4 separate regions of the Homo sapiens genome follow, and regions 1, 3 and 4 are each linked to region 2. Evidence: fine-mapped expression QTL. A gene starts in region 2. Each other region holds a variant in brackets. All regions are shown on one strand. Distances are from middle to middle. Region 1 overlaps SMIM15-AS1 (SMIM15 antisense RNA 1). Region 2 holds the start of SMIM15 (small integral membrane protein 15). Region 3 overlaps ELOVL7 (ELOVL fatty acid elongase 7). Region 4 overlaps SMIM15-AS1 (SMIM15 antisense RNA 1).

The links. PIP is the estimated chance that this variant, and not a neighbour inherited with it, causes the effect.
Region 1: its variant is the best candidate, but not a certain one, in a credible set for the expression of SMIM15 in whole blood (INTERVAL, PIP 0.83).
Region 3: its variant is the best candidate, but not a certain one, in a credible set for the expression of SMIM15 in whole blood (TOPMed, PIP 0.73).
Region 4: its variant is the best candidate, but not a certain one, in a credible set for the expression of SMIM15 in whole blood (INTERVAL, PIP 0.61).

The regions. Positions count from the first base shown.
Region 1 is chr5:61,181,629-61,189,909 of GRCh38, forward strand. All of the region lies in intron 3 of SMIM15-AS1 (SMIM15 antisense RNA 1), which reads left to right. Among named protein-coding and RNA genes, the nearest start is that of SMIM15, 23 kb to the left of the region's middle. RefSeq lists an enhancer at 6,072-6,587. The variant G/A (reference allele first, on the strand shown) is at 3,953.
Region 2 is chr5:61,159,383-61,167,316 of GRCh38, forward strand. SMIM15 (small integral membrane protein 15) reads right to left here and starts at 3,086. Exons shown (of 3, transcript NM_001048249.4): 1 at 2,835-3,086; 2 at 1,706-1,845; 3 at 1-817. The coding sequence starts at 789. The coding sequence ends at 565. It overlaps SMIM15-AS1 (SMIM15 antisense RNA 1), which reads left to right and starts at 2,934. Exons shown (of 4, transcript NR_109908.1): 1 at 2,934-3,144. RefSeq lists enhancers at 2,253-3,149, 2,635-2,714, 2,785-3,044, 3,575-3,674, 3,715-3,774 and a silencer at 3,225-3,334.
Region 3 is chr5:60,821,910-60,828,236 of GRCh38, forward strand. The region is part of intron 1 of ELOVL7 (ELOVL fatty acid elongase 7); the gene reads right to left. Among named protein-coding and RNA genes, the nearest start is that of ELOVL7, 19 kb to the right of the region's middle. RefSeq lists a silencer at 420-479. The variant T/C (reference allele first, on the strand shown) is at 3,535.
Region 4 is chr5:61,193,152-61,201,432 of GRCh38, forward strand. The region is part of intron 3 of SMIM15-AS1 (SMIM15 antisense RNA 1); the gene reads left to right. Among named protein-coding and RNA genes, the nearest start is that of SMIM15, 35 kb to the left of the region's middle. The variant G/C (reference allele first, on the strand shown) is at 4,222.

The sequences.
Region 1 (8,281 bases), 22 kb after region 2:
CTTGATTCTGGATGATAGATTAAGTAGACAGACTGTTGACCACATGTGACTTAAGGAATATTGTTAATTATTTTACCAATCTTTGGATCAAGGTTTGCTTGAAGTAAGTAAGCTGTGCTGTGGATAAACCTTTGGATGATAAAGAGTGAGCTGTATTGCCTTCAATATTGTTTGCATCAGAACATTACTAAGTGGTATCGATTTTGAAAAATAAAATTCAACTTTCTGAGAACATAGACCAGATTCAAGTATTTTTATCTTTTTTTCCCCCCTTTTTTCAGAGAATGGAATCTCTCCACGTTGCCCAAGCAGGTCTCGAACTCCTGTACTTGAGCTATTCTCCCACCTCTGCCTCCCTAAGTGCTGGGATTACAAGCGTGAGCCACTGTTCATGGCCTTAGGGACTTTTAAATGTTAAATTGATTTTGACCTACCCAGGAGCTAGAGAATACCAATGATTACAGAGGGGAGAATAAAATTGCCGTATAGATTTTCTGTGCTCCTTTAGAAAATCCATTCTGGAGTAAAGAGATGGGCAATTGGTCAACTGAGTTTCTTTCTTGTATAATATGTCAGAGTTTGATATTGTCAGTCTGTTAACCAAGATTTTTATTGGGATATTTGCTGAAAGAGGCTCTAAGAATATCCCATCACCAGTAATTAGAATTTGTTACAGGTTTCAGTCAGGGTAGTTGAAAGGGAGCTAATTTGGTAACACAATAACCTAGTACCCAACTAATTCAGGAGCATGAAGAAAAATTGGTTGATTAAGGCTTAAGTCAGATAAATAATACTATAGGTTGACATGGCTGGGTTAGCTCAGGTTTGTATATTTGTTTTTTCAAAGAGGCAGACTTTTCCTAAGATTAGAATCCACAGTAATGATGGAAGCAGGAAACTTAGGGGCAGGCCATAGGTGTAAAATCAAAGTTGAGCTGCTTCTGTGTTACAGCTGTAAGCACAGGAAGTTGCCCATTTTTTTCAAGCACTATTTCTGCATAGTCATATATCAGCTAGTGTTGTCAACATAGACACAAGAGACAATAGGAATACGTACATGCAATTCCACCATCAGCTAAAAAACCCACATAAGTCTTTGAAGCTCTCAAATAACACGCATGACACTGAATGGTACATTTTGATGCACTTTGAAACTCTTATCTCTTTAGTTGGTAAGTACATTTGAACACTTAATATGTGCTCAGCAGAAGAGAAGGAGAACAAGGGAAGTCTAATATAAAATCAGGATTTTTTCTTTTCTCTTTGAAGCCAATTAGAATGTGTGTATGTGTGTGTGTGTGTGTGTGTGTGTGTGCGTGTGTGTGTGTGTGTGTGTGTATTATTTAGTGTAGTAATCCTTGGGTTTTTTTTAAAAAAACGTGTTTTACTATGAAGTGTAACATACAAGAAAGTGATAACATATGACATATACAGCTTACAAATGGTTGTAAGAATTAATACACTTTGTAAGTGCCACCCATGGTAAAAATAAGTAGGTGGAGAAGGAGGAGAAGAAAAGAAGAATTTAACTAGCATGTCAGAAGTCTCATGGATCTCTTTCCAGTCACAACCCTCTCACCAAGCTCGATTCCTATTCCCTGAGTAAGTTCTAATCTTACTTTTCTTTTTTTTTTTTTTTTTGAGAGAGAGTCTGACTCTGTCACCCAAGCTAGAGTGGTGCAATCTCGGTTCACTGCAATCTCTGCCTCCTGGGTTCAAGTGATTCTCCTGCCTCAGCCTCCCGAGTAGCTGGGATTACAGGCATGTGCCACCATGCTGTGCTAATTTTTGTATTTTTAGTAGAGATGGGTTTTCGCCATGTTGGCCAGGCTAGTCTTGAACTCCTGACCTTAGGTGATCCGCCCGCCACAGCCTCCCAAAGTGCTAGTATTACAGGCATCAGCCACCGTGCCCAGCCTAATCTTACTTTTAAAGTAATCATTTATTGCTTTTCTTTACAGTTTACCACTTGGATGTGCATCCATATGTACCATATACAACCATAGAGTTTAGTGTTGTGTGTCTGGAAACTTTACAGAATGAGGTCATACTTTATATATTCTTTTGTCTTGTTTCTTTCACTTGTTATCTATGATGTTGAATGTAGATGCAGTCTGTTCATTTTCATTGCTATGTAGTATTCCATTAAATAAACGACAACTTATTTATCCATTCTACTATGTTGGACATCTGGGTTGCTTACAGTTTGCATTACAGATAATGTTCCTGTGAATATAGTTATGCTATCCCTTGGTGCATATAGGCTTGCATTTCTGTTGGACATAGTCCTAGTCAGTAAAAAGGAATATGACAGAAGTCAATGAAACTGTCTTTTTCTGAATGAAAATTTAGTGAGCCAGTAATCTAATGAGGAAAACAGCTGTTCTTTTTGTTATTCTAATGGTAGGTGCTGTCTGGATATAAAGATGACCATTTCATTTGCTTAATATGAATGTCTACAAGTATGTTTCACCAAGAAAATAAAATACATTTTAGTTTTAAACCATATCTGGTATTATTTCTAGAATTCTAAAATTAACAGGATAAAAAGTCCTTAGAGGGCAAGGATTCTTTCATTTTTTAAATGTACTTCACAGTGACCATAGCAATGCTATTAAGATGCTGAATCCCAACCAAATATGCATTCTCTTGACAAATATACTTTGGAGTAAAATTATTTGTACAAATGCATATAACTTTTCAGATGTCCAGAACTTTAATTTTTCCTTTATTCTAAAAAGGGGGAAAAGATGGATTCCTTTAACTTAAAACTGTTTCTGTTTTGAAAGCCTCTATCCTGAAAGATAGAAAATAATAGTTTTGATGAATCCATGTAATATTCTGTGTTCTTCACAATTTTTCTTACAACATTATTCCTCTATACATGTTCTTAGTATAGATAATATTAATGTATTTCTGAGGCCATTAATAATTATAATTTGGGCCTTTTGTTTGCCTTTTGAACCTGGAAGACAAAATAGATAGTATATTAAGATGCAAATGTATATTTTCTAATGGACTTGTGCTTCAAAGCATATGTATTTTAGGGCTTGGCCTGATTTTGCCAGCTAAGGCCAGATCATTGTAAATTGATTTCAATATCTTTCTGCTTTTATAAGCTTTGTTCTAAAGCTTCACAGGAAGAATCAAAATAATGTTTGTCACACTGTTCTAGCTTAGCTGAAATCTTGTTCCTGTTTACACTAAATGACCATTGGCCTAATGCAGTTAACATGAGTACTTTACAACTCATCCAAGAACTATTTCAAGTGTTGAGGAAAAGGCACTTTAATTGAAAAATTACTTATGCAGGATCAGACTGAGCGAGAATGCTGTTTTTTGTACATTCAGCATATTACACATACCACGCTCCATTTTGCTCCTTTGTTATAACAAATGAATTCTTTTTTGCAATGAAAGGATTCTTATGGTTTATCTTCCTTGGGGATTGTAACTTTCAAAAGGTGCTCTTAAATATATTACTACTTTATTTAAACTATTCACTTCCCAGATGTGCAGTGCTTTGCACAAAGAATAATTCACTAATGCCTTGAGCACACAAAAGGAAAATGCTCTGCTGGGTTTCCCTTTTTATTTTACTTTCCAGTGGTAGGTTTATGACTTGATGCCCAGCTTCTTAATAAATTCACCTCTCACAGGACACAGTTCTCTTTAATATGTTTTCCATGCTTATAGAAAGAAACACTGTATTAGCAAACACCAGTAGAAATTTCATTTTCACCACGTTGCTTTCTCTGGGTATATATAGAGAAACCCCTTAAAGGGCTTCTCCAGGACAACTGAAAGTTATCTTTTTCATTGATCTCTTCTGTGGCTTTAAAATATTTTCTTGACAACATATTGTTTTTATTAATCTAAATTAAGCATTTTAGATTCTTTTATGAATTTAAAAGATATTAAAACCAAAGAATTGGAAAAATATCTAAGAAAA[G/A]TTACTAATTTCCATGGTGGGGTATAGAGTTGGTGTGTGTAGGAAGTTATACAGGCAGAGGAGCATTGGAAGAAAAGTGGTGTTTAAGGAAGATTACTGTAAACTGGCAGCAGGCAAGAGTCCAGGACGTTTACCCTTCCACCAAGTTTTCCCAGCCTGCTCTAGCCATGCTATTATTTTACAAGCTCCTATACATATTATATAATATATAAGCAAGAATGGATGGATGGGTCAAAATAAAATGCTTCTATCAGCAAGTTCCCTTGATAAGACAGCAATGGTCAAAATTCACATGAAATAAAAAGATCTTGGATATGGTTTCTTCCCGGGACTTAGAACTTTAATATGTTAATGTACGTCTTGAGGTTCCAAAAAGGGCCTTATATTTCAAGGAATGCTGGTGTTTCAAGCAACAGAGTTTGGGAAACAACAAGGTAAATGATAATCTAATGCATTTAGGTAAGAGGTAAGTGAAAGTTAGAATATATGCTTGAGCAACATGTAACCATAATGGCTGTGGAGTCCCAGCTTTGAATATCTTGGAAGAATAGACAATTATCAATGTTCCTCCCTCTCAAATGATCCTTCTCAACACAGGTTGTGCTTGATGAATCTTTAAGAACAGAATCTTAGCAGGATTTTGTCAAATGCCTTTTCTTCATCTGTTGAGATAATCATGTTTTTCTCTTTTAGTGTATTAGCATGATGAATTCCATTGATTGATTTTCTAATGTTAAACCAATCCTACATTTTTCAGATGAACCCCACTTGGTTATGACGTACTATCCTTTTATCCCTTTAATATATTGTATTTGATACTCTAAAATTTTGTTTAGAATTTTTACATCTATGTTCATAAGGGATACTGGTTTGTAGTTTCCTTTGCTGTAATATCTTTGTATTTTCTGCTCTATTTTTGGAAATGTTTGAGTAAAATTGTTATTTATTCATTAAATGTTTGGGAGAATTTACCCTGAAGCCATCTGTGCTTGGAGTTTTCTTTTTGGGAAGATTATAAACTGTGATGTCCATTTCTTTAACAGATACACAGTTCATACCAATACCCTCAATTCCAGTCCAACACCACAAAGTCTATTCTAGTTTTCATCCTTTCCATACCTGTAACTCCCTACCCTGACAATGAGAAACCCCTCTCCCATCATCTTTCACGTACTTCCTTATTTGGTTAATGTCTCTATATATAACCCATCTTCTTTTGCCGCTGCTGCCTCTCCAATACAAGTGCCCTCTTCACCTCCCTTGGGGTCTGAAACTCTGCCAAGGGCAGCAAGTGCTACTTCCCCTTCTACCCCTCAATGCATGCCCTCCTTACACTACCCAGGCTGATACCATATGCCAGACTGCCCCCATTGCATGGTGATATGGCTTGGCTCTGTGTCCCCACCAAAATATCATGTTGAATTGTAATTCCCAATGTTGGGGGAGAGAACTGGTTGGAGGGGATTGGATCATGGGGACAGATTTCCCCCTTTCTGTTCTCATGATAGTGAGTTCTCACAAGATCTAATGGTTTAAAAGTATGTGGCACTTCCCCCTTCATTCTATCTCTCTCCTGCCACCATGTGAAGATATGCTTGCTTTCCTTTCATCCTTCTGCCATGATTGGCAGGAGGACTTCCTGAGGCCTCCCTAGCCATGTCTCCTGTACAGACTGTGGAACTGTGAGTCAATGAAACCTCTTTTCTTTAGAAATTACCTATTCTCAGGTAGTTCTTTATAGCAGTGTGAGAATGGGCTAATGCAGAAAATTGTTACCAGGGAATTGGGGTCTTGCTATAAAGATACCTGAATATGTGGAAACAACTTTGGAACTGGAGAATGGGCAGAGGATAGAACAGTTTAGAGGGATCAGAAGAAGACAGGAAGATGAGGGAAAGTTTGGAATGTCCAGGAGAGTTGTTGAGTGATTGTAACTAAAATGCTGATAGTGTTATGGACAGTGAATTCCAGGCTGAGGTACTCTCAGACAGAGATGAGGAACTTATTGGGAACTGGAGTAAAGGTCACTCATGCTATGCTTTAGCAAAGAGACTAGTGGCATTGTGCCCCTGCTCTAGAGATCTGTGAAACTTTGAACTTGGAAAGATTATTTAGGGTATCTGGTAGAAGAAATTTCTAAGCAGCAAAGCATTCAAGATGTGGCCTGGCTACTTCTAAAAGCTTGTGCTCATTTGCATAAACAAACAAATGACCTGAAACTCAAACTTATATTAAAAGGGGAAGCAGAGCATAAAAGTTTGGAAAATTTGCAGCCTGACCATGAGGTAGAAAAGAAAAATCCATTTTCTGGGGAGGAATTCAAGGCTGCAGAAATTTGCATAAGTAAAGAAGAGCTGAATGTTAATAGCCAAGACAATGGGGAAAATGCTTCCAGGGCATTTCAGAGACCTTCACAGCAGCCCTTCCCATCACAGGCCTGGAGGCTTAGGATGGAAAAATAGTTTCATGGGCCAGGTTGAAGGTCCCGTGCAGCCTTAAGACATGGTGCCCTGCATCCCAGATGCTTCAGCTCTAGCTTTGGCTAAAAGAAGTCAAGGTACAGCTCGGGCCATTGCTTCAGAGGGTGCAAGCCCAAGCCTTGGTGACTTCATGAGCCTGGGCCTGTGGGTGTGCAGAAGACAAGAGTTGAGGTTTGGGAGCCTCTGCCTAGATTTCAAGGGATGTATGGAAATGCCTGGATGCCCAGGCAGAAGTCTTGATATGGTTTGGCTCTGTGTCCCCACAAATCTCATCTCAAATTGTAATCCCCACGTGTTGAGGGAGGGAGGTGATTGCATTATGGAGGCAGTTTCCCTCATGCTATTCTCATGATAGTGAGGGATTCTCATGAGATCTGATGGTTTAAAAAGTGTGGCACGTCCTCACTTGGCACTTCTCTCTCCTGCTGCCATGTGAAGAAGGTCCTTGCTTCTCCACCTTCTATCATGATTGTAAGTTTCCTGAGCCCTCCCAGCCATATGGAACTGTGAGTCAATTCAACCTCTTTCCCTTATAAATTACCCAGTCTTGGATATTTCTTTATAGCAGTGTGAAAAATTGACTAATACAAGCCTGCTGGTATTACTCAATACAAGCAGCAGGGGTGGAGCCTTCATGGAGACCCTCTACTAGGGCAGTGCAGAGGGGTAAATGTGGCATTGGAGCCCTCACATAGAGTCCCCACTGGGACACTGCTTAGTGGAGCTGTGAGAAGGGGCCACCATCCTCCAGACCCCAGAATCAGATCCATCAACAACTTGCACCATGCACCTGGAAAAGCCACAGGCATTCAATGCTGGTCAGTGAAAGCAGCCACAGGGACTGTACCCTGCAGATCCACAGGGGCAGAGCTACTCAACGCCTTGGGAGCCCACCCCTTGCATCAATGTAGCCTGGATGTGAGACATGGAGTCAAAGGAAATCATTTTGGAGCTTTAAGATTTAGTGACTGCCCTGCTGGATTTCAGACTTGCATGGGGCCTGTAGCCCCTTTGTTTTGGCCAATTTCTCCCTTTTGGAATGGGAGCATTTACCCAATGCTTGTCTCCCCAGGAATTAACTAACTTGCTTTTGATTTTATAGGCCGATAGGCAGAAGGAAGTTTCCTTCTCTCAGATGAAACTTTGGACTTGGACTTTTGAGTTAATGCTGGAATGAATTAAAACTTTGAGGGACTATTGGGTAGCCATGATTGTGTTTGGAAATGTGAGAAGGACATGAGATTTGGGAGAGGCCAGGGCAGAATGATATAGTTTGTCTCTGTGTCCCTACCCAAATCTCATGTTGAATTGTAATTCCCAGTGTTGGGGGAGGGATCTGGTGGGAGAGGATTGGATCATGGGGGCAGATTTCCCCCTTGCTGTTCTTATGATAGTGAATTCTCACAATATCTGATGGTTTAAAAGTGAGTGGCACTTCCCCCTTTGCTCTCTCTCTCCTGCTGCCATGTGAAAATGTGCTTGCTTTCTTTTTACCCTTCCACCATGATTGTAAGTTTCCTGAGGAAACTTGTACAGCCTGTGGAACTGAGTCAATGAAACCTCTTTTCTTTATAAATTACCCAGTCTCAGGTAGTCCTTTATAGCAGTGTGAGAATAGACTAATACACATGGACACCCTCCTCACTTTCTCCTCTCTTCCTGCCAACTGAGTCTGTGTTGTTCAATTTAAACTGTTTTATTCAATGTATCTGTACATAACTGGCAAATAATAAATATGTAATCAATGACTTAAAAACTACATTTTTAATGGACATGTTCTATATTGGACTTTGAAGAAGATATTATTGAACTACCTGAGTGTATACTCGAGCTCTGCTGTTGCCTAACT
Region 2 (7,934 bases):
CTGTAATAAGAAAAATGCAGCAAATAGAAGTACTCATTAATATTATTTTGTTTTGAGAAAGCCAGAAATGATTCTAAGAAATAAACAATAATAATAAAAGATGTAATTAATATACTGTATCCCTTTTAAGCCAAAGCACACTTTTTACCTCAAGACTGTTCTGACTTTTACATTCTTAATTTCCTTTGTCCAAAATAGGACCCCATTTTAAATAGAGTTCATTTGAATTGAGTTCATAATCTAAAGTCACTTTTCCCCACAAGATGTTTTCATTTCAGTATATAAACTGCTAAGCGGCAAATGACTAAGTCAGTTATAAAGAATTTGTACCACAGTAAATGCTAATTTACAATAACTGTCAATAGAAACCTATAAACTTCTACACCCACGCCTAAAAGTTACTATAGTATTGAGGTCAGAACTAACATGATTCTTCCATTTGGTCAAATTTCATTTACTAAATCATACTGTCAAGAAATCCAAAGAAGAAACTTTAGTGGATTCTTCCAAAGCTGTGTAATTTTCCAAATGATTTTCCTCTGGTTGCAAAGCCTGTTCAGTCCTTCAATCCTTTTTTAGTCGTTTAGCTTTTGCAATGTTTTCTTGGCGTTTTTGCTTCTTCTTTTGCTCCTTCTCCCTGGCCTCAATCATCTTGGCCAATTTCCAAGACAGTACAGCACTTGCTAGGAACAGTGGAGTAAGGGCCAAAATAACGGTTGTAAGGAAGCCATAGGGGTCCTTTGCAGCCCATTCCACAACATACTCAGCCCAAGCCTTTATATCAAACATCTTCACAGCAGTCTTATGAAAACTGGGGCTGGGGGAGGCGGGTGGAGAACACAGAGGAAAAAAACAGGAGAAAAGACTATGTGGTTAATCAAATTTTGAAAAAGTTTCCTCACACAACCAGTTAACTCAGGATTCCATTATCACTCAGTTTGCTTTTTTAAAAAGTACAACTTAGTACTATTGTAATAAGGACTAGTATCTCTGGTTAGGAAAAAGTAATTCATCTAGTACAGCCAGAATAGTGACACTTCAAAGAGGTAAAGTTATAGAAGATTTAAAAAAGCCATGTGACTCTGTCATAAGGACTATGCATTCTCACATGCCTCCTATATTCAAGACAAACTTTATTTAGGAGGAGGCTTTTATAAAAATCTTGAGTTTTCTGTGGTCATTCCAGGAAACAGCTGAATACAGTTTGTCATTTTTTGACATATCCTTAGTATTACTAATTAACAAAAATACAAATCAGCAAATTTGGTGTTTGAAAAGGACAAGCAACAGAGCATGTGAAATGCTCGCAGAGAAGGAGAGATGACTATTTCCCCGAATGGGAAGGAGAGGGTAAGGGAGTCATGACATCGCATTAATATGCCAAAGAAGCAAAAAGTACTGTGCTATTTTATGCCCTTTCAGCTTTGAGGACCTCTGTTGGAATAAGCCTAATTTAATAAATGAGAAAGTAGCCTTAACAGATGCCATGTGTTTTGTTCCTTTTTGAGTGTAAGGAAAAGGCAACTGGCAAATGAGGATTATGTGACTTGAGTGACGTTTTCTATTTTGCCCCAGAGGCTTTTCTCCCTTTCATGTTTGTGTCAACCGCTATTCAAAGTGGAGAATTAGAATACCTGGGTAGGGAATGAGTGTATATACATCCACTTACAATTTCAACTGGAATTTTTTTAAAAAAATCATCTACCTTATGCTTGAGTAGTGATCCCTTAACTTTGTCCTGGTGTTATTAGTGACCCAATCACGACTTCAGATGACCCTTGGTAGTCTGTCTTCTTGAGTTCTACTGTACACATCTGAGAGACGGTTTAAATTCTGTACAATTGGCTAGTTGGAAAGAATACAAAAAATAAAACAAAATTTAAGTCACAATTTCAGGATAATTGTAATAAAATTTTAAATGGAAAATTTCTATATTGTATATATGCAACCTATATGACATCTAAAATTGCCTATCCGGTATAGTAACTTAATACGTTTCTTCCTCATTTGAATTTACAATTGCAAATGCCCTGTAAGAAAATCCTAATTACTGGAAATCAAGTATTTTACTAAGTTACTTATTTCAATAATAAAATTTTTTTAGTTCATTGACATACGGGAGACAAGTTGGCTCACTGACTGACTTACACAGCGTATCCGTTCCTAGATTTTCAATTTTTATACTAAAAATGTTGCCACTCATTTATTTACTGGATTAGGTACACCACTACAAAATCAAACAGCTCATCTTACTCTTTATAAAGGTTTTTTTGGGTCCATCATACAATTTGTGTCCTTTACTTAAAAAATTAGAAGACATAACCAAACAAATTATAGTAATTCACCCACAGTCCCATTACCCCAAGAAAACTGTGACTAGTTTTAATTATATCTTCCCCACGATTTTCAACTGAACACACATGAAAGTGCCTAATACGTTAAATATCTTAGCTCCTGGACTTCATACGACCTCACCCATACAGTTAGAATTAGGTACTACTGAGATCGATCTGCCTTCACCTTCTCCAGCCCAGTAGCGAATAAACAATGTAAGTTTCAGAAATAAGCAAAAGAACTTTGCAGTAAAAGAGCCATGGTCCACAGGCCACACATCTCCCTGCAACTCAACTTCGGACCCAAACGCTCGCGCCTCCACACTTTCAGGAATAAATCCTACTCTTCCGCCCAAAACGGATCGACCAGGCTCGATCTCCCAACCAGACCCGCGTGGCCCCTGCGGCTGCAACGGGTAGCACTTGACGGCCGTCCGCACTTCCTCCTTTGTCTTTCCCTTATTCCTTACGTTTCTCCCTTGCTCACTCTTCCCTCCTTACCCTATCGGGGCTGCAGACCCACGGAGGCCACGTTCACTCCTGCCCGTCGGCCTTGGCAAGCGCGGGCCCCTTGTCGCGCAGAGCGGAGGGTCCTGGGAGATCCTGGGTTGGCCCAGCCACACCTTGCGCCGCCGCCGTTTCTGCTGGACACCAGGAGAAAACCACGGCAGCTGCAGCCACCAACTTCCCCTACATAGCCCCACGGGATCGGATCCCACTCCCCACTCACCGCCAGACCGGAAGCAGGAAGGCGGAAGTCGCGGCCTTTGCGTCCCGCCCACAGGCGACCCGAGCCGCCAGCCGGGCGTGAGTAAGTCTAGGGCCCAGTTTCCGGCTGCGCCATTGCTGTGTGGGTCTTGGGACCTCGAGTTGGAGGACGCGGGAGGGTGGGGGCGGGGGCAGGGCAGCGCTGAGATTTCCGGGGAGCGGCAGGTGAGGCCGCGCGGGGCGGGTGACGGCACCCGGGCGGGCTCCTTTCCAGGCTGGAGCCCGAGACTGCCACGTCCTGCGGGGACCAAGTGGTGGGCGAGGAGGCGTGGAGCGGCTTCAGGACTCGAGGAGCGGTTCCGAAGCAGCTAGGGACTTTTGCCTTTGCCCCCCGAGGTCGATCGGAAGACAACCCCCATCCCCTGCTGTAGCGGGACAGTTGGAGGGTCATGGGTGGGTGAAGTGTTTGGCTGAGGGAAACTCAGACCAAAGAGCAGCGGCAAGAAAGCAGTTGGGTCCCCACAAAACGCCCGAAGTCAAGGTGAGGGTCACACAACGACTCTTGACGATTCCGGCGAGTTCATCCTGGTGCACATCCCACTCCATGCCTCTCTCTTCTGGTTGGACAATAGTTACATCCTTACGAAAAGGAGGCAAGCTACTGGGCCTTGGTGGATCCACTCAACCTTGTTACCAAGGGACATGCCGCCATGCTATGTGAAAAGGGGGGTTTTGTTGTTTGTTTTTAATTTAAGTATCTAATTCGTTTCACGAAAGAATGATCAATACCGGCCCAGAGTAAACTTGATAAGTAATTAAACTGTCAGGGCATAGAGTTCCCATAGAGGTGCTTGTTCTTTCAATACACAAATAAAGGGATGCAAAAGTCAACATGCAGAAAGGGTGAGTTAATATTGTCTTCTAATCTACAGGAACTGAAAGATTAGCTAATCTGGTTTGGTTGGTGACCAAATTTTGTGATTGCTTGCACTGTTTGACTACCTCTGACAAATGTTGCAAGACCTCTTCACTGATTCTCCAAAGACTATAGAATGTTCTCTTTCAGGAGCAAGCTGCGACATGTTTAACTAGTTTAGGTAAAACAACAATAACTGTTATTTACCAGGGAACAGGCTTTTGGCAGATAATCTAACGATCTACGATACTGTTCGTTGGGCATATGTTAATGTTTGTAATGTTGTATTACCAGCAGTTGTTTTCTTACTCCTTTTTATTTGAAAACCTGGATGATAGTTTCAAAGCCTATGCTGCTTAGGCCTAGCCTGTACCTTAGTAGCCAGAAAAAGTAGACTCAGTCACTGGATTGTGTGCACTGAATACTTACTTGAGATAACTGATTTTTCTAAAACTTCCCCAAGTCTTGAATCCAAGATGTGGGCAGAATGTATTATTTTAACATCCTTCGTTCCAGAGGCCAATGCGTGTTTTATTTTAATCATGATAGGTGGTTTTCCCAGTTACTGCCTCCGGATACTTGCAGTGCTGCATCCCTAGTTAAAAGCCCAGAAGTCTTGGGCAGGAAGGAAGGGCATATAAAGAGAAAGCCTTTGTAGTTCTTTAGCTGTAATCTAGACCAGGGGTCCCCAACGACGGACTGGTACCTGGTTTGCAGCCTGTTAGGAACGGGGCCGCACAGCAGGAGGTGAGCGATGGGTGAGTGAGCATTTCCGTCTAAGTTCCGCCTCCTGTCAGATCAGCAGCATCATTAGATTCTCATGGTGCGAACCGTAATGTGAACTGCATGTGCGAGGGATCTAGGTTGTGCGCTCCTTATGATAATCTAATGCCTGATGATCTGAGGTGGAACAGCTTCATCCTGAAAGCATCCCCCATCCCCGTCCATGGAAAAATTGTTTTCCACGAAACCAGTCCTGGATGCCATTAAGGTTGGAGACTGCTGATCTAGACCATGCCTTTACAATCTAAGTTTGCTCATCTAGCTTCAAGTTACAGGACAGTCTGCAAGACCAGGAACAGCATAGGGGTTGCCACAGTGGAGCTCCTTACTGCAGTCTGCATTGCCTTAACTAAAGGTGGTGTCAGGATTGATTCAAATACTGTGAACTACTTTCCATAAAGAGAAGTCTGAGCTCGTGAACTGAGATTCACAGTTGTGGTACAGTAATGTTATGTATACTCTGATAAATCACTCTGAGTGTGTTTCCACTTAGATATGTGGAAAGCATACTAGGCAATCTCCAATGCCCTTTCAGCTTTAAAATCTGTAAATTGGACTGGATTTGGTCATTTTTCTTAAATAAATAGCATAGTAAGGTATTTGATAGAAACATTATTGCAAGTTTTCTTAAGGTCTTTTTTTTTTTTTTTTTTTTTAATTTTGAGACGGAGTCTCTGTCACCAGGGCTGGAGTGCAGTGCTGCGATCTTGGCTCACTGCACCCTCCACCTCCCAGGTTCAAGCGATTCTCCTGCCTCAGCCTTCTGAGTACTTGGGACTACAGGCGGGCATCACCACGCCCAGCTAATTTTTGTATTTTTAGTATAGATGGGGTTTCACCATTTGGCCAGGATGGTCTCGATTTCTTGACCTCGTGATCCACCCGCCTCGGCCTCCCAAAGTGCTGGGATTACAGGCGTGAGCCACCACCGCGCCTGGCCTTTTTTTTTTTTTTTTTTTTTAAACACGGTCTTGCTCTGGCCCAGCTGGAATGCAGTGGTGCGATCATAGCCCACTGCCTCTTCGAACTCCTGGGCTCAAGGGATCCTCACTCCTCACCTTCTGAATAGCTGGGACTACAGCCACAAGCCACCATGCCCAGCTTAGCATACTCATTATTTTTTAAACCTATGACCAGTGTTAATTTTCTGCTTAATGTATTCAGTTCTAAGTCAAGCCCAACTAGAGAGAATGAGTTTCAGTGATTTTTTTTTTTTTTTTTTTTGAGACAGGGTCTCACTAAGTCACCCACGCTGGGGTGCAGTGGGTCCATCACTGCTCACTGCAGCCTTGACTGCCTGGGCTCAAGCGATCCTCCCACCTCAGCCTCTAGAGTAGCTGGGACTACAGATGCATGCCACTATGCCCAACTAATTTTTAAAAATTTTTTTCTAGAGGCAGGGTTTCACTCTGTTGCCCAGGCTGGTCCCAAACTCCTTGCCTGAAGTGATCCTCCTGCCTTTGTCTTTCAAAGTGCTGGCACTACAGGTGTGAGCCACTGTTCCAGGACAAGATCTTATTTCTTTGTTTGAAAAGATCCTTAATCAGGTTTTTATTCTCTCAAATGTCTGTCAGAATACGAATTTAGAATAACAAGGAAATAAGGTCTGCTTTATTTACTTTTAAGAAATAAAATATTATTCATGTAAGTTTAGCCAAACTAACTAAACCTGATGCTGTTAATGAAATAGGGCCTGCCTTTGCATAAGATAATTCCTGTGTAGTATATCACACCACCAGCCTCTTCAGCACTAGTGTACTCTATTGCAATTATATTTTATAAGTAGAGCCTTATAAAATTCTTTTGTCTATTGAGAATGGAAGTCCTGTGGCAGTCCCATGCCATTTTTTTTCTTAAAAAGTATTTTTCCCTTGATTGGTGCAAAATTATATCTCATTCTAACCCATGTCAAAGTTGTAAGTAGTGAAACCAGAATAAGATTCAGATAATATTAAGATAATAATATAGTTTAATAATAACAATTGAGTGTGTCTAAAAGACTTTGAGAGTTCTCTTACCTGCATCTTACTTTGATGGAATTGGTTTCTTCCCTAAATTTTATTTTGTGAGGTTTTTTACTTCCATTGAAACATAATGCAAAACATTTCTTAATAGGCACATTTATGTAATATTTATTTATTTTTATTTATTTATTTATTTTGAGGCAGAGTCTCGCTCTCTTGCCCAGGCTAGAGTGCAGTAGTGCGATCTCAGCTCACTGCAGCCTCCACCTCCCAGGTTCAAGTGATTCTCCTGCCTCAGCCTCCCGAGTAGTTGGGACTACAGGCGTGCACCATCATGCCCAGCTAATTTTTGTATTTTTTGTAGGGATGGGTTTTTACCATATTGGACAGGCTGGTCTCAAACTCCTGATGTCGGGTGATTTGCCCGCCTCAGCCTCCCAAAGTGCTGGGATTACAGGCCTGAGCCACTGTGCCCAGGCAGTGATTTTTTTTTTTTTAGCATAATCAGATTTTAGTGATATTTGAAAGTTTATACAGAAGAATAATTTTTTTTAAAGCTACTTATTGTGGCCAGGCACATTGGCTCATGCCTGTAATCCCAGCCCTTTGTGAAGCAGAAGCAGGTGGATCACCTGAGGTCAGGAGTTCGAGACCAGCCTGATGAACTTGGTGAAACCCGTCTCCACTAAAATTAAAAAATTAGCTGGGCGTGGTGGCACATGCCTGTAATCCCAGCTACTTGGCAGGCTGAGGCAGGAGAATTGTTTGAACCCAGGAGGTGGAGGTTGCAGCAAACAGAGATCATGCCATTGCACTCCTGCCTAGGCAACAAGAGCGAAACTCCATCTCAAAAAAAAAAAAAAGCTACTTATTCCAGCTCTTTGGGAGGCCGAGGCTGGTGGATCACCTGAGGTCAGGAGTTCGAGATCAGCCTGACCAACATGGAGAAACCCCGTCTCTACTGAAAATACAAAATTAGCCAGGCATGGTGGCGCATGCCTGTAATCTCAGCTGCCCGGGAGGCTGAGGCAGGAGAATTGCTTGAACCCAGGAGGCAGAGGTTGCCGTGAGCCGAGATCGCGCCACCGCACTCCAGCCTGGCAGCCTGGGCAACAAGAGCAAAACTCCATCTCAAAAAAAAAAAAAAAGTTACTTATTGAGTACTTAGTATGTACCAGGTGCTGGGCTAGGTGCTTCACACTTATTATCACTAATCCTGAAACTAAACAA
Region 3 (6,327 bases), 340 kb before region 2:
CCATTTACTGATCCACGATAGGGAAAAAAAGAAAAAAACAAATTAAAAACCCAGTTGGTCTATTACCACAGATAGTTTGAGAAGCACTTCTCTAATGCCTTCAGGTGTGTTCTTACCTTCCTCCTTTTGGGAATGTTGTTTGCTGCCTGGGACAATGCAACAATGCAAATGTCTAATAAATATCAGTGAATAAATAAATGAAGGTGTGAATGATAAGAAGGCTTTGTGAAAGATGTGAGACTGAGCTATTTCTTGGTGAACAGTAGGAATTGGGTACTTTGGGGTTGTAGGATAGTCAAATGCACTGAGAAAGGAGTGCAAATGAGGAAGAGTGTGAAAGACACTGCATAGGCAATAGGAAGCGCTGAAAAGGTGAAATATTATTCATAAGCTCGATATGTAAAAGAGCTCAACCACACAGGTCACCAGAGTGCTACCCACTGAAAACCCCAAGCCTGTACCAGAAGAATCCCCTTAGTGCAAGCTTTAGCTATAGGCAAATCAGCTATGCAAAGGATGAATGTGATGGGTGAGCCTAAGAGCAAGAAGACCGAGTGGGGTTTAATTCCATCATCCCAATGAGAAATCATTATAGGCCTGAACAAGGGCAGAGATAGTTTGGTAAAGTAAATCCCAATGTGACAAGCCCAGGGGACATTCAGGTGGAGATGTTTAGCAGGCACTTGGGAGGAAGGTCAAGGCTAAGGATACAGCTTTTGGAACTTCACATCTAGTTGGTGATGAAAACCACAGTAATAGATGCATGAGAACAATAGTGGTCTAAAGACAAACGCCTGGAGAATACCATCACTTAAGGGGAAGGCCAAAAGATGGAATCTCACAAAGGAGACAAAAAAAGAAAGAGTCAAAAAGACATGAGGAGAACTCAGTACGTGCAGGATCATGAAAACAAAAGTGGGAAAAATTCTGAAGAGGGAGGCAGGGATGAATAGGGTCAAATGCATCAGAGAGGTTCAGTGCATAGAGTGGAATGGTCTTCAGCAAATTCAGCCAACCTGGAAGCCTCTGTGACTGGAAGGAAGAAGAAATTAAGCAATGATAAGGCTGAAGCCAAAATGCAAAGGCAGGTGATTAATAGCAGGCATTGAACAGGTCTTGTTCACGAAGCCTGGTGGTGAAGTCTAGAAGAGAAGAAGGAGAGGCAAAATCAAGCTTTATTAGTCTTAAGGTGATAACTGTTGGAGTATTTTTACAGTGAGGGGATGAAGTAATAGAGAGAAACAAGAAGGAACAACCCATGAAGGTCTAGAGGAGAAAATGAGGGGGATGGTCAGAAGCCCTGCAAGGCAGCATTCTCCCTCCACTGGAGCAAGGGTGATACCTCCTCCGAGAAGGAAAACGGGAAAGAAGGGCGTGAAATAGATGAGTTAGTAAAGGGGAGGAAGCCTTCTCCAGAGCCTAAGTCTGGATTAGGGCCCTTCCTACATGCGCCCATAGCATGTACCATGTCCAGTAATTGCCTAATTGACCTGCCTGGATGCAGGGATAGACCATAAGCACCAGGAAGGCACGGACTATAACTGTCCCATTTACCACTCTATGTCCCATGCCTACCACAGTGCCTGGCTTATCTAAGCCCTAATTAAATGTATAGTTGACTAAATGGGGACTAAAAATTAAAGAGGATTCACCAATAGATGCTTCAATTTTTCTAGCAAGTAGGAAGTGGGATCAATTGCCAAGGGTTTATAAAACGGAGTTAGGTAGAGGGTTTTTTAGAGATTAGTGAAAGAATAGAATAGCTTTTCAGGGAAATGGAAACTGAAAATCCTTCAAGAACAAGTTTAAAGTAGTGGTTCTCAATCTTAGTTGCACATTAGAATCACCTAAAGAACATGAGTAACTACTGATGCTTGGGTCCTGCCTCCAAATTTCAGATTTAACTGGTCTCTGTAGCCTGGGCTCCAGGATTTTTTTAAGTTCCCAGATGATTCTAATATGCAGCCAAGATTGAGAGTCACTGAGTGAAAGACTTAAGTAATGCTGGTCAGGATTGAGACAAGACTGGAAACCATGAACTGATCCATTTACCATTTTACCCAGTTTTCCACCACACTGTTCAGCTACCTGGGTATCCCTGCAGAGGATTACTGTAGGATTAATTTGGAATTAGGGCTTTACCAGGTAAATATGGAAGTAGGATAAATAAAAAATTCAGACACTACCTGGGTATCCGTGCAGAGGATTACTGTAGGATTAATTTGGAATTAGGGCTTTGCCAGGTAAATATGGAAGTAGGATAAATAAAAAATTCAGACACCAAGGCAAAATTATAGTCTCTGAGAGAGTGAAGAGAAGGAGGTATAAGAGAGCTGAACAGCCAGAGACCTTTACAGTGCTGTAAAGGTTATCACAGTTGAGTCACACAAGGAACTTTAAGGCCGCTCACAAGTCGGCATTTGAAGGGACGTGGAAGTCTCCCAGAGCAACAGCAGGAGTAACGATGGAGAAACGTCAAAGTCTCTAAGGCATGTGGGATTGAAGCGAAGAACAAGAGACAAAGAAGACTAAGAAAGGCAGAGGCAACAAAGCCCAACAGTGAGATGTTCAAAAAAGGAGAGTTTTGTTTCATTTTCCTATGGAAGTGAAAAAGTAACAGTTAGATTCAAATGTGGCAATGGATAGATAGGGGAATCCTGGCCAGTCCACCCAGATCTTTAAATATGGAAGAAAGCCTCCATTTCTTTCTACATAAAATTCATGAACAAATCCTATCTTCTAAATATATTCTAGAATCCAACTACTTTACTTTAACGGTGGCCCAAGCCACTGTCCTGTCTTATCCGGATTGCTGCAGTAGCCTCTAAGCTGGTCTCCCTGACTTCATCTTTGTCCCTCTTTAATGTCTTCCTCAAGTTAAAAACAACAAAACAAAAACTCAAGTCATGTCCCTTCTCTGTTTAAAATGCACCAATATTTTCCCACCTCACTCACAATAAAAGTCAAAGTTCTTATAATGGGCTCCACGGCCTTACATGATCTGGGCCCTGACTACCTCTCTGACCTCTGACCTTTCCTTCTTCTCACTTCTTTTTTTTTTTTTGAGACAGAGTCTCACTCTGTCACCCAGGCTGGAGTGCAGTGGTGCGATCTCGGCTCATTGCAACCTCCACATCCTGGGTTCAAGTGATTCTCCTGCCTCAGCTTCCCAAGTACCTGGGACTAAAGGCACACACCCAGGCTGGTCTCAAACTCCTGACCTCAAGTGATCCACCCAAAGTGCTGGGATTACAGGTGTGCGCCACCATGCCCAGCCTCACTTCTCATACTTAGCTTCAACTGCATTGATCCCCTTGTCCTTCCCTGAACACACCAAGAATGCCCTGCCTCAAGGCATTGAAAATCACTGTCCCCACAACCTATAGTTCTTTTCCTCCAGATATCTGCCACAGCTTACTCCTTCACTTTCCTCAGATCCCTGCTAAAATGTCACCACTCCAACAACACGCACTTCCCTTACCTTGCTTTATTTTTCTGCATCGTACTTTTCAGTGTTATATATATTTATATGTA[T/C]TTCACCAATATTCTAAATTTACTTGTTTACCGTCTGGCCCTCTCTGCCCCCAAGAATGCGCTATATTATAAGCTGCTTAGGGGCAGGGATGTTCTTCTGTTTTGTGCACTCTTACCTCTCTGGCACCTGAAACAGTGCTTGACGTGTAACAGACACTGAAATATTTGTTGAATGAATGGATGGATGAACCTTCTCATAAGCAGTGTATGGGCCTGAGGTTGAGGGAAAGAGCTGTGATTCAGTTATATTTGGAAAATGATGAGACTGGGGATACAAGAGAACTGGAACACAATGGAACACCAGTCTCAAAGAATAAAGGACAGAGCTGAAAGTATGGTTAATAGTAACAGGAGCCAATAGAAAGGCTATAATACCCAGTAAAGGGTTTCTCTTTTGGTCAGTAACCAAAAATTACAAGAATGAGAGGAAGGGTGGGAATCCATAGCCTTAAATACCCTGCCTTGAGACAAGCAAGAATTGGCAGTCATAGGTTCAGTCCAAGTAGGGACAGGAATAGGGCATGGAGCCCCATCTGGGGAAGGAATGCCCAGCGGTGGACAGGCAGGGCACATGGACTGATGAATCCTATAGAGAGCAAAAAGCATAATGGTCTTTCCTATTACAAATCTGAATACAGGGGAGGTATTACGGTACATATACACCAAATAGTACGTATCTATAAAATGTACAGGTAAGCCAGAAAGGGAGGAAAAATAAATGGTACTCAAGGAGAGGGGTGGTTAAGAAAAGTAACCAACAGTAAGATCAAATTAATTCATCCTGTTTTGTATTTATGAGTACAGTTCATTTATCCAGCCTCATCTTCTAATGCAGTGTTTCATAAAAGTATTTTAGATAACTGAAATGCTTATCTCTAGGTGTAATCAAAGATACACCTGCCCAGATACACCTGTATCTGTGATTCTGATTTTTTTTTTACTGTAAAACATTTTTTTAAAGATTTCAATCATCTTATAACTGAACTTTTCTGGATGATTCAGGGATACTATTAAGATAACAGTATCATAGCAGTGTCCTCTGGGACTACCCCTATTTATGGCTATGGATCTTTGCCCTGCACTAAAAGTTCCAAATTGCAAGGCATTTCTAATGCCAGTGCCTGTTTTTTAACAAATTTCCTGTCTCCTCCCTATCAGTTTGTTAGCTACTGCTCTTCTTACTGTTTGTTACTAGCATTCCTGTTTCTACAAAATCTCACTCATTCTAATTTGTTTTCCCTAATATGCTATGGGATGGGAAATGAGAAAAACAACAACATTGGAATGTTTAAAATAGTGCTAAGTGGGTGGAGATTAAAAACCAGGGGGTTTCCTTCTGGGTGGAGCACAGATGTACTCAAAAGACTTTGGGACATTGTTTTCTCTGCTTGGGGATAATTTCTCTGCTTACTCATTTCCAGAAACATTTTAGGTACTGAAACTTCATGATAAATGGCCTCTGGGTTAGCAGACTGTATTTGTATCCATACTACTTTCTTCAGTACAGTTAGACTAAAATGATTGTTATTAAGGTGTCTCAATTCTCTTTAACAAATTAAACATGAACACAGATTCAGAACAACAGAGGATCTTCATTTATTCCATGTCTGCAAAAAACATCTCTAATTGAGAACGAAATGTATAATTTAGTTATTTTAACTGAAGAAAACATTTTCCCAGGGAAAGTGTAGTTACACACCTAAGCTAGTAGACAAATTGATTTAATGCATAATCTGTGTATACATTTGCAATACAATATTGCTAAAAATATCATTACTTAATTTTTAGGTTACGTAATTTTGATATGAAGGAAAAGATGCCAGAAAAAACTTAGACTAATATTTCCTTCCACTATTTATCTGGATAATATATAGTTTAATTCAATATTTCCTCAATGTAGGTTCCTCCAACTATGGCCCTTTCAAACAACAGCTGAACATCAACAAACAAAAATTGTAGACAATGTGAAACTAAAACAATGACTACCCTATAAAAGCTGTCATGTCAAATATTTACAAATATCTTTCTAGGTAAACATAGAAAAACATTTTCTTCTAGACAATTTTATACAAGATACTCAAATACCATGGATTTTCTTCCTAGTTAGTTGGGAGTAGGAAAGAAATCCTGGTTATTCTGGCTGGCTTTAGCTACTATAATGAGATTTCATACATTTGATGTTTGAAAAAGCCTAATAATTTCTAGACCTTTAAATGCCCCATCATGAAAGAATTGCCCAGAAGAGTGAAAAGTCTCAAATTCTACAAATGAGCATGTAATTTATTAACTTAACCTGCAATGATTAATAGGGAATAGAAATAAAGGAATTTCCATGATCACAACCAACACATGCCCTTGCCCTAGTTTCCCCAGGTGACCAGTTTTGGTACCACAACCCACCTGTGGTACAGGCCCCAACCTTGGCCTCCCATCCTTCCTGCACACCCAGAATCTCTCCTTCTTCATCTTTCTTTCACTCTTTCTGCCCTTCTCACTCCTTTCCATCCACAGAGGCACACCCCCATCTAGGCTCTGTGCTGGACCAAGTCCTCAATTTCCCACATTTTACACCCCTAGTTCCCTCTCCCCTAACAGTGTGTCGAGGCAGCAATGTGAATCCCCAGCTCAAAGCACCTCTCACCAGGACCTTTGTCTTTTCAGAACCCTCTAGCAATTTGTTAGTGGAGTCTGGAACCAAGCTGGAATTCCTGCTTGTGGGCTTCATTAACAGGACCCCTTTGACCCCTCACCCTCACCTCGCACTCTGATTCCTGATAATCTTTCAGCCAAGTA
Region 4 (8,281 bases), 34 kb after region 2:
CCTCAAGTCTCCAAGGTCCATTACATTATCCTTATACCTTTGCATCCTCACAGCTTAGCCCCCACTTATACGTGAGAACATGTGATGTTTGGTTTTCCATTCCTGAGTTACTTCACCTAGAATAATGGCCTCTAGCTCCAACCAAGTCACTGCAAATGCCATTATTTCATTCCATTTTATGACTGAGTATGAGTAGTCTATATACCACTTTTTTTTCCTTTTTTTTTGATGGAGTCTTGCTCTGTTGCCCAGGCTGGAGTGCAGTGCCACAATCTTGACTCACTGCAACCTCTGTCTCCCAGGTTCAAGCGATTCTCCTGCTTCAGCCTCTCGAGTAGCTGGTACTACAGGCACGTGCTACCTCGCCTGGCTAATTTTTGTATTTTTAGTGAGATGAGGTTTCACCTTGTTGGCCAGTCTGGTCTTGAACTCCTGACCTCAGGTGATACACCCCCACCTTGGCCTCCCAAAGTGCTAGGATTACAGGCATGAGCCACCGTGCCTGTCCTATATGCCACATTTTTTTAACCACTCATTGGTTGATGGGCATTTAGGTTGGCTCCATATTTTTGCAATTGGTGAATTGTGCTGCTATATATATGTGTGCATGTCTTCTTCATATAATGACTTTTTTGGGGGAGGTCCAAAACATACTTTTCATCTACTAACTCTGTGTATCCCTATATGTAGGAATATATGTAGATGCAATAAAGTTATATAAAAAGGAAAGTAAGGGCCGGGTGCAGTGGCTCACACCTGTAATCCCAGCCTGAGCAAGAGTGATTAAAAAAAAAAAAAAAAAAAAGGTAAGTAAGGACATGATAAAAACAAGATAGGCTGTGTGTGAGGAGAAGATGGTAGATGAAGGTTATTTCCAAGTCTCTAGGTTTCATCTGAGATGTCGGGTCAAGGGAGCTAATTACATTATTTAAATATTTTAGTTAAATATTATAACTAAAAGAAGTTCATACATAAACCAATGATAAGTATATGTTATAAATTATAATTAATCCAAATCTGTGTATCTCAGTTTCAATAAAAAGAAAAAACTTATGCAGGAAAGGAAATATAGTATATTATGTGGCACAGGTGAGGATAGCATTTAAGTAATGTGAATGAATACTGAATGGTGATCTAACTAAAATTGTCCATAGAGCCAAAATTTAAAATTAAAAGTGTGTATTTATGTGGATGAACAGGATGCAAAAGATAAGCAAATCTTCATCTTCTATACTGGGAAATCAGCAGATAATGGCTAAAATGGAAAAGTGAAGAAATCATATAATAATCATTATTTGAAGTAAAAACGTAAAGAAAGAGAATCTGCTACCAGGGTTCAAAATGGTTGCCTGGAGGTACAGTGGTGGAGTTGGGAGTGAGAAAATAAGTTGATATTTATTTATAACAAGATTGTTAAGGTTGTTTGACTCCCTAAACTGCTTATAAAATCGGTAAATTTAGTTAAAATAAAAATTAAAAATAATTTTTAAACAATATCAGAACTAACTAAAAATAAAAGAAATATGTAGTACAAAATAATGAAAACTCATATCTGAGTATACTTTGCCTAAAACTTATCCTATCAATTAATCTATTATTTCAACCAATTGGTTTTCAGCCAATTCCTTTACTCTTTTTCACATGGCAAAAGTATGCTATGCCTGCTTTCAATTAAAAAAAAAAAGCTGAAGAAAGTATGTGCGGTTCATCTGCATGGATTTTTTAATTTTTTTTATTTGAATTTAATTTAATTTAATTTTAGGTTCCAGGATGCATGTGCAGGACATGCAGGTTTGTTACATAGATAAACATGTGCCATGGTGATTTGTTGCACTTATCAACCCATTAGTTAAGTATTAAGCCCTGCATGCATTAACTATTTATCCTGATGCTCTCCACCCCCACCACCAACAGGCCCCAGTGTGTGTTGTTCCCCTCCTTGCGTCCATGTGTTCTCCTTGTTCAGCTCCCACTTATAAGTGAGAACATGTGATGTTTGGTTTTCTGTTCCTGTGTTGGTTTGCTGAACATAATGGCTTCCAACTCCATCCATGTCCCTGCAAAGGACATGATCTTGTTCCGTTTTATGGCTGCATAGTATTCCATTGTGTATATGTACCACATTTTCTTTATCCAGTCTATCATTGATAGGCATTTGGATTGATTCCGTGTCTTTGCTATTGTGATTAGTGCTGCAGTGAACATACACATGCATGTATCTTTACAATAGAATGATTTATATCCCTTTGGGTATATACCCAGTGACGAGATTGCTGTGTCAAATGGTATTTCTGGTTCCAGGTCTTTGAGGAATTGCCATGCCATCTTCCACAATGGTTGAACTAATTTACATTCTCACCAACAGTGTAAAAGCATTCCTGTTTCTCCACAGCCTCACCAGCATCTGTTGTTCCTTGACTTTTTGATAATGGCCATTCTGACTGGTGTGTGATGGTATCTCATTGTGGTTTTGATTTGCATTTCTCTAATGATCAGTGATGTTGAGCTTTTTTTCATGTTTGTGGGATACATAAATGTCTTCCTTTGAGAAATGTCTGTTCATGTCCTTTGCCCACTTTTTAATGCAGTTTTTTTTACTTATAAATTTGTTTAATTTACAAGTAAATTCTGAATATTAGACCTTTGTCAGATGGATAGATTGCAAAAGTTTTCTCCCATTCTGCAGGTTGTCTGTTCAGTCTGATGATAGTTTCTTTTGCTGTGCAGAAGCTCTTTAGTTTAATTAGATCATATTTGTCAAGTTTTGCTTTTGTTGCAATTGCTTTTGATGTTTTCATCCTGAAATCTTTGGCTGTGCCTATCTCCTGAGTGGTATTGCCTAGATTTTCTTCTAGGGTTTTTATAATTTAGGGTTTTACATTGAAGTCTTTAATTCATTTTGAGTTAATGTTTGGATAAAGTGTAAGGAATGGCTTCAGTTTCAGGCTTCTGCATGTGGCTAGCCAGTTCTCCCAGCACCATTTATTAAATAGGGAATCCTTTCTCTATTGCTCATTTTTGTCAGGTTTGTCAAAGATCAGATGGTTGTAGATGTGCAGTCTTATTTCTGAGTTCTGTATTCTGTTCCATTGGTCTATGTGTCTGTTTTTGTACCAGTACCGTGCTGTTTTGTTTGAAGTTGGGTAGCATGATGCTTCCAGCTTTCTTCTTTTTGCTTAGGAGTGTCTTGGCTATATGGGCTCTTTTTTGGTTTCATATGAATTTTAAAGTAGTTTTTGCTAATTCTGTGAAGAATGTCAATGGTAGTTTAATGGGAATAGCAATGAATCTATAAATTACTTTGGGCAGTAAGGCCATTTTCATGATATTGATTTTTCCTATCGATGAGTTTTTCGATTTGTTTGTGTCTTCTCTGATTTCCTTGAGTAGTGGTTTGTAGTTCTCCTTGAAGAGGTCCTTCACTTCCCTTGTTAACTGTATTCTCTTTGTAGCAATTGTGAATGGGAGTTCATTCATGTTTGGGCTCTCTGCTTGTCTGTTGTTGGCATATAGGAATGCTTGTGATTTTTGCACATTGATTTTGTATCCTGAGACTTCGCTGCAGTTGCTTATCAGCTTAAGAATCTTTGGGCTGAGACGATGGGGTTTTCTAGACACAGAATCACGTTATCTGCAAACAGTTTGACTTCCTCTCTTTCTATATGAATACATTTTATCTCTTTCTCCTGCCTGATTGCCCTGGCTAGAACTTCCGATACTATGTTGAGTAGGAGTGGTGAGAGAGGCCATCCTTGTCTTGTGCTGTTTTCAAGGTGAATGCTTCCAGCTATTGCCCATTCAATATGATATTAGCTGTGGGTTTCTCATAAATGGCTCTTATTATTTTGAGGTATGTTCCATCAATACCTAGTTTATTGAGAGTTTTTAACACGAAGGGATTTTGAATTTTATCAAAGGCCTTTTCTGCGCCTATTGAGATAATCATGTGGTTTTTGTCTTTAGTTCTGTTTATGTGATGAATTATGTTTATTGATTTGTGTATGTTGAACCAGCCTTGTATCCTGGGGATGAAGCCGACTTGATCGTGGTGGATCAGCTTTTTGATGTGCTACTGGATTTGGTTTGCTAGTATTTTATTGAGGGTTTTTGCATCAATATTCATTAGGGATATTGGCCTGAAGTTTTCTTTTTTGTTGTATCTCTGCCAGGATTTGGTATCAGGATCATGCTGGCCTCATAAAATGGGTTTTCAGTGGTTTG[G/C]AATAGTTTCAGAAAAAAATGGTACCAGCTTCTTTTTGTATCTCTGATAGAACTCAGCTGTAAATCTGTCTGGTCCTGGACTTTTTTTGGTTGGTAGGCTATTTATTACTGCCTGAACTTCAGAACTCATTATTGGGCTATTCAAGAATTCACCTTCTTCCTGGCTCAGTCTTGGGAGGGTGTATATGTCCAGGAATTTCTCCCTTTCTTCTAGATTTTCTAGTTTATTTACATAGAGGTGTTTATAGCATTCTCTGATGATTGTTTGTATTTCTGTGGGGTCAGTGGTGATATCCCCTTTATAATTTTTTATCGTGTCTACTTGATTCTTCTCTTTTCTTCTTTATTAGTCTAGCTAGCAGTCTATCCATTTTATTAATTTTTTCAAAAAAGAGCTCCTGGATTTGTTAATTTTTCAAAGGGTTTTTCATGTCTCTTTCTCCTTCAGTGCCACTCTGATCTTGGTTATTTCTTGTCTTCTGCTAGCTTTGGGGTATGTTTGCTCTTGATTCTCTAGTTCTTTTAATTGTGATGTTAGGGTGTCAATTTGAGATCTTTCTAGTCTTTGATGTGGGCATTTAGTGCTATAAACTTTCCTCTTAACACTGCTTTAGCCATGTCCCAGAGATTCTGGTGGATTGTCTCTTTGTTGTCAGTGGTTTCAAAGAACTTCTTGATTTCTGCTTTAATTTTATTATTTACCCAGGAGTCATTCAGGAGCAGTTGTTCAATTTCCATGTAATTGTGTGGTTTTGAGTGAGTTTCTTAATCTTGAGTTCTAATTTGATTGTGCTGTGTTCTGAGAGACTGTCGTGATTTCAGTTCATCAAAAAAAAGATTATTTTGCTTTTGCTGAGGAGTGTTTTACTTCCAATTATGTGATCGATTTTAGAGTACGTGACATGTGGCACTGAGAGGAATGCATATTCTCTTGTTTTGGGGTGGAGAGTTCTGTGCATATCTATCAGGTCCACTTGATCCAGGGCTGAGTTTAAGACCTGAATATCTTTGTTAATTTTCTATCTCAATAATTTGTCTAATGTTGATAATGGGGTGTTAAAGTCTCCCACTATTATCATGTGGGAGTGTAAGTCTCTTTGTATGTCTCTAATAATTTGTTTTATGAATCTAGGGTCTCCTTTATTGGGTGCATATGTATTTAAAATAGCTCTTCCTGTTGAATTGAACCCTTTACCATTATGTAATGCCCTTCTTTGTCTTTTTCAATCTTTGTCGGTTTAAAATCTGTTTTGTCAGAAACTAAGATTGCAATCCTTGCTTTTATCTGCTTTCCATTTGGTTGGTAAATTATCCTCTATCCCTTTATTTTGAGCCTATGTGTGTCTTTGCACATGTGTCTCTTGAATACAGCACACTAATGGGTCTTGACTGTTTATGCAGCTTGCCGTTCTGTGTCTTCTCATTGGGGCACTTAACCCATTTACATTTAAGGTTAATATTGTTATCTGTGAATTTGATTGTGTCATCATGATTCTAGCTGGTTATTTTGCAGACTTGTTAATGTAGTTCCTTTATAGTGCTATTGGTCTTTGCACTTCAGTGTATTTTTGTGGTGGCTGGTAATGTTTTTTCCTTTCCATATTTAGTGCTTCCTTCAGGAGCTCTTGCAGGGCAGGCCTGGTGGTGATAAATTCCCTCAGCATTTGGCTGTCTGAAAAGGATTTTATTTCTCCTTCACTTATGAAACTTAGTTTGGCCAGATATGAAATTCTGGGTTGGAAATTCTTTTCTTTAAGAATGTTGAATGTTGACCCCCAATCTCTTCTGGCTTGTAGGGTTTCTGCTGAGAGGTCCACTGTTAGTCTGATGGGCTTCCCTTTATAGGTTGCCCGGTCTTTCTCTCTGGCTGCCCTTAGCTTTTTTTTCTTCATTTTAACCTTGGAAAATCTGATGATTATGTGTCTTGGGATTGATCTTCCCATGGAGTATCTTAATGGGGTTCTCTGGATTTTGTAAATTTGAATGTTAACCTGTCTTGCTAGGTTGGGGAAGTTCTCCTGAATGATATCCTGAAGTATGTTTTCCAACTTGGTTTCGTTCTCCCTGTCTCTTTCAGGTACCCCAATCAGTCGTAGTTTCAGTCTTTTTACATAATCCCATAGTTCTCGGAAGTTTTGTTCATTCCTTTTCATTGTTTTCTTGTCTGCTGTCTTATTTCAGTAAGATAGTCTTCAAGCTCTGAAATTCTTTCCTCTGCCTGTTCTATTTGGCTACTGATACTTGCAGTTGCATTGTGAAGTTCTTGTGTCGGGTTTTTCAGCTCCATCAGGTCATTTATATTCCACTCTAAACTGGTTATGCTGGTTAACAGCTTCTGTAATGTTTTATCATGGTTCTCAGCTTCTCTGCATTGGGTTAGGATATGCCCCTTTAGCTTAACAAAGTTCATTATTACACGTCTTCTGAAGCCTACTTCTGTCAATTCATCCATTTCAGCCTCCTCCTAGTTCTGTGCCCTTGCTAGAGAGGTATTGCAATCACTTGGAGAAGAATAAGCACTCTGGCCTTTTGAGTTTTCAGCATTTTTTGTTGTTGTTGTTGATTCTTTCTCATCTTTCTGAGTTTATCTAGCTTTGATCTTTGAGGCTCCTGACCTTTGAGTGGGGTTCTTGTGGGGACTTTTTTGTTGATGCTCTTGTTGCTTTCTGTTTGTTTTTCTTTTAACAGTCAGAATGCTCTTCTGTAGGGCTGCTTCAGTTTGCTGGGAGTCTACTCCAGACCCTGTTTGCCTGGGTCCCTCCCACACCTGGAGGTGTCACCAGTGGAGGCTACAGAACAGCAAAGAAGACTGCCTGCTCCTTCCTCTGGGAGCTCTGTCCCAGAGGGGCACCACCCTGATGCCAGTGGGAATGCCCCTGTATAGGGCGTCTGGCATATCCTGTTGTGGGGGTCTCACCCAGTCAGGAGACATGGGATCAGAGACCCGCTTAACAAAGCACTCTAGCTGCTCCTCAGTGGAGAGGGTGTGCTGTGCTGGGGAAATCCCACTCATCCAGACTGCCCTGACTCCTCAGAGACACCAGGCGGAAAGACTAAGTCTGCTGATCCGCAGAGACCATGGCTGCCCTTCCCCTACGAGGCTCTGTCCCAGGGAGATGTGAGTTCTGACTATAAACCCCTGGCCTGAGTAGCTAAAATTCCCACAAGGAGGCCCCACTGGTTGAGGAGGGACGGGTAAGGGTCTGGCCTAAAGAGTCAGTCTGGCCATGATCTGCCACAGCCACTGTGCTGTGCTGTGGGGAATTCCTCCTGGGTCCAAACCACCCAATCTCCCCAGCATCCACAGGGGAAAACCAGCAGACTGGAGCTGCAGTGGTGGCTGCTGCCCCTCCCACTGGGAGCTCAGTCATCTTAGGCAGCAGGAAGCCACAGTGATAATGGCCACCCTTCCCCCTGGGAGCTCAGTTGGTCTTAGGCAGCAAGCAGCTGCAGTGATGACAGCCGCCCAAGCCCCTGGGAACTTGGTAGTCTTAGTCAGCCTCCAGCCGAAATGTCCGCTGAGAACCTGCACAGCTCTGTGCTGGGAACCAAAGCCCTGGTGGTGTGGGCTCATGAGAGGGGGTATCGTGATCTGTGGGTTGCAGAGATCTGTGGAAAATGTGTGGTTTTCCCAGGCCGTGTAGCACAATCACTCACCGCATCTCTTGGCTGGGGTTGGGAGCTCCCCTTCCCCTGTGCAGCTCCTGAGTGGGCCATCACTCCACCCTGCTTTTCCTTGCTCTCCGTGGGTCACGCCAACTGCCTAGTTAGTCCCAGTGAAAGAACCTGGATACCTCAGTTGCTGGTACAGGATTCACTTGCCATTTTCGTTCTCAGTGGGAGCCTCTGACAGCAGCTGTTTCTGTTTGGCTATCTTGGCCCCTCCCCCAGCACAGATTTTTATAAAACTAATGGCTATAGTGCACAGTCCTAAGATTCCGAAAAGAGGTTAAACTTTTATTTGGGAATAATACACTGAAAAGACAGGTACGATGTTGTTCTGATTGAAAAAGCTCCATAAAATAATTGAACACGTACTATTAGGTAAACTGAAAACTAG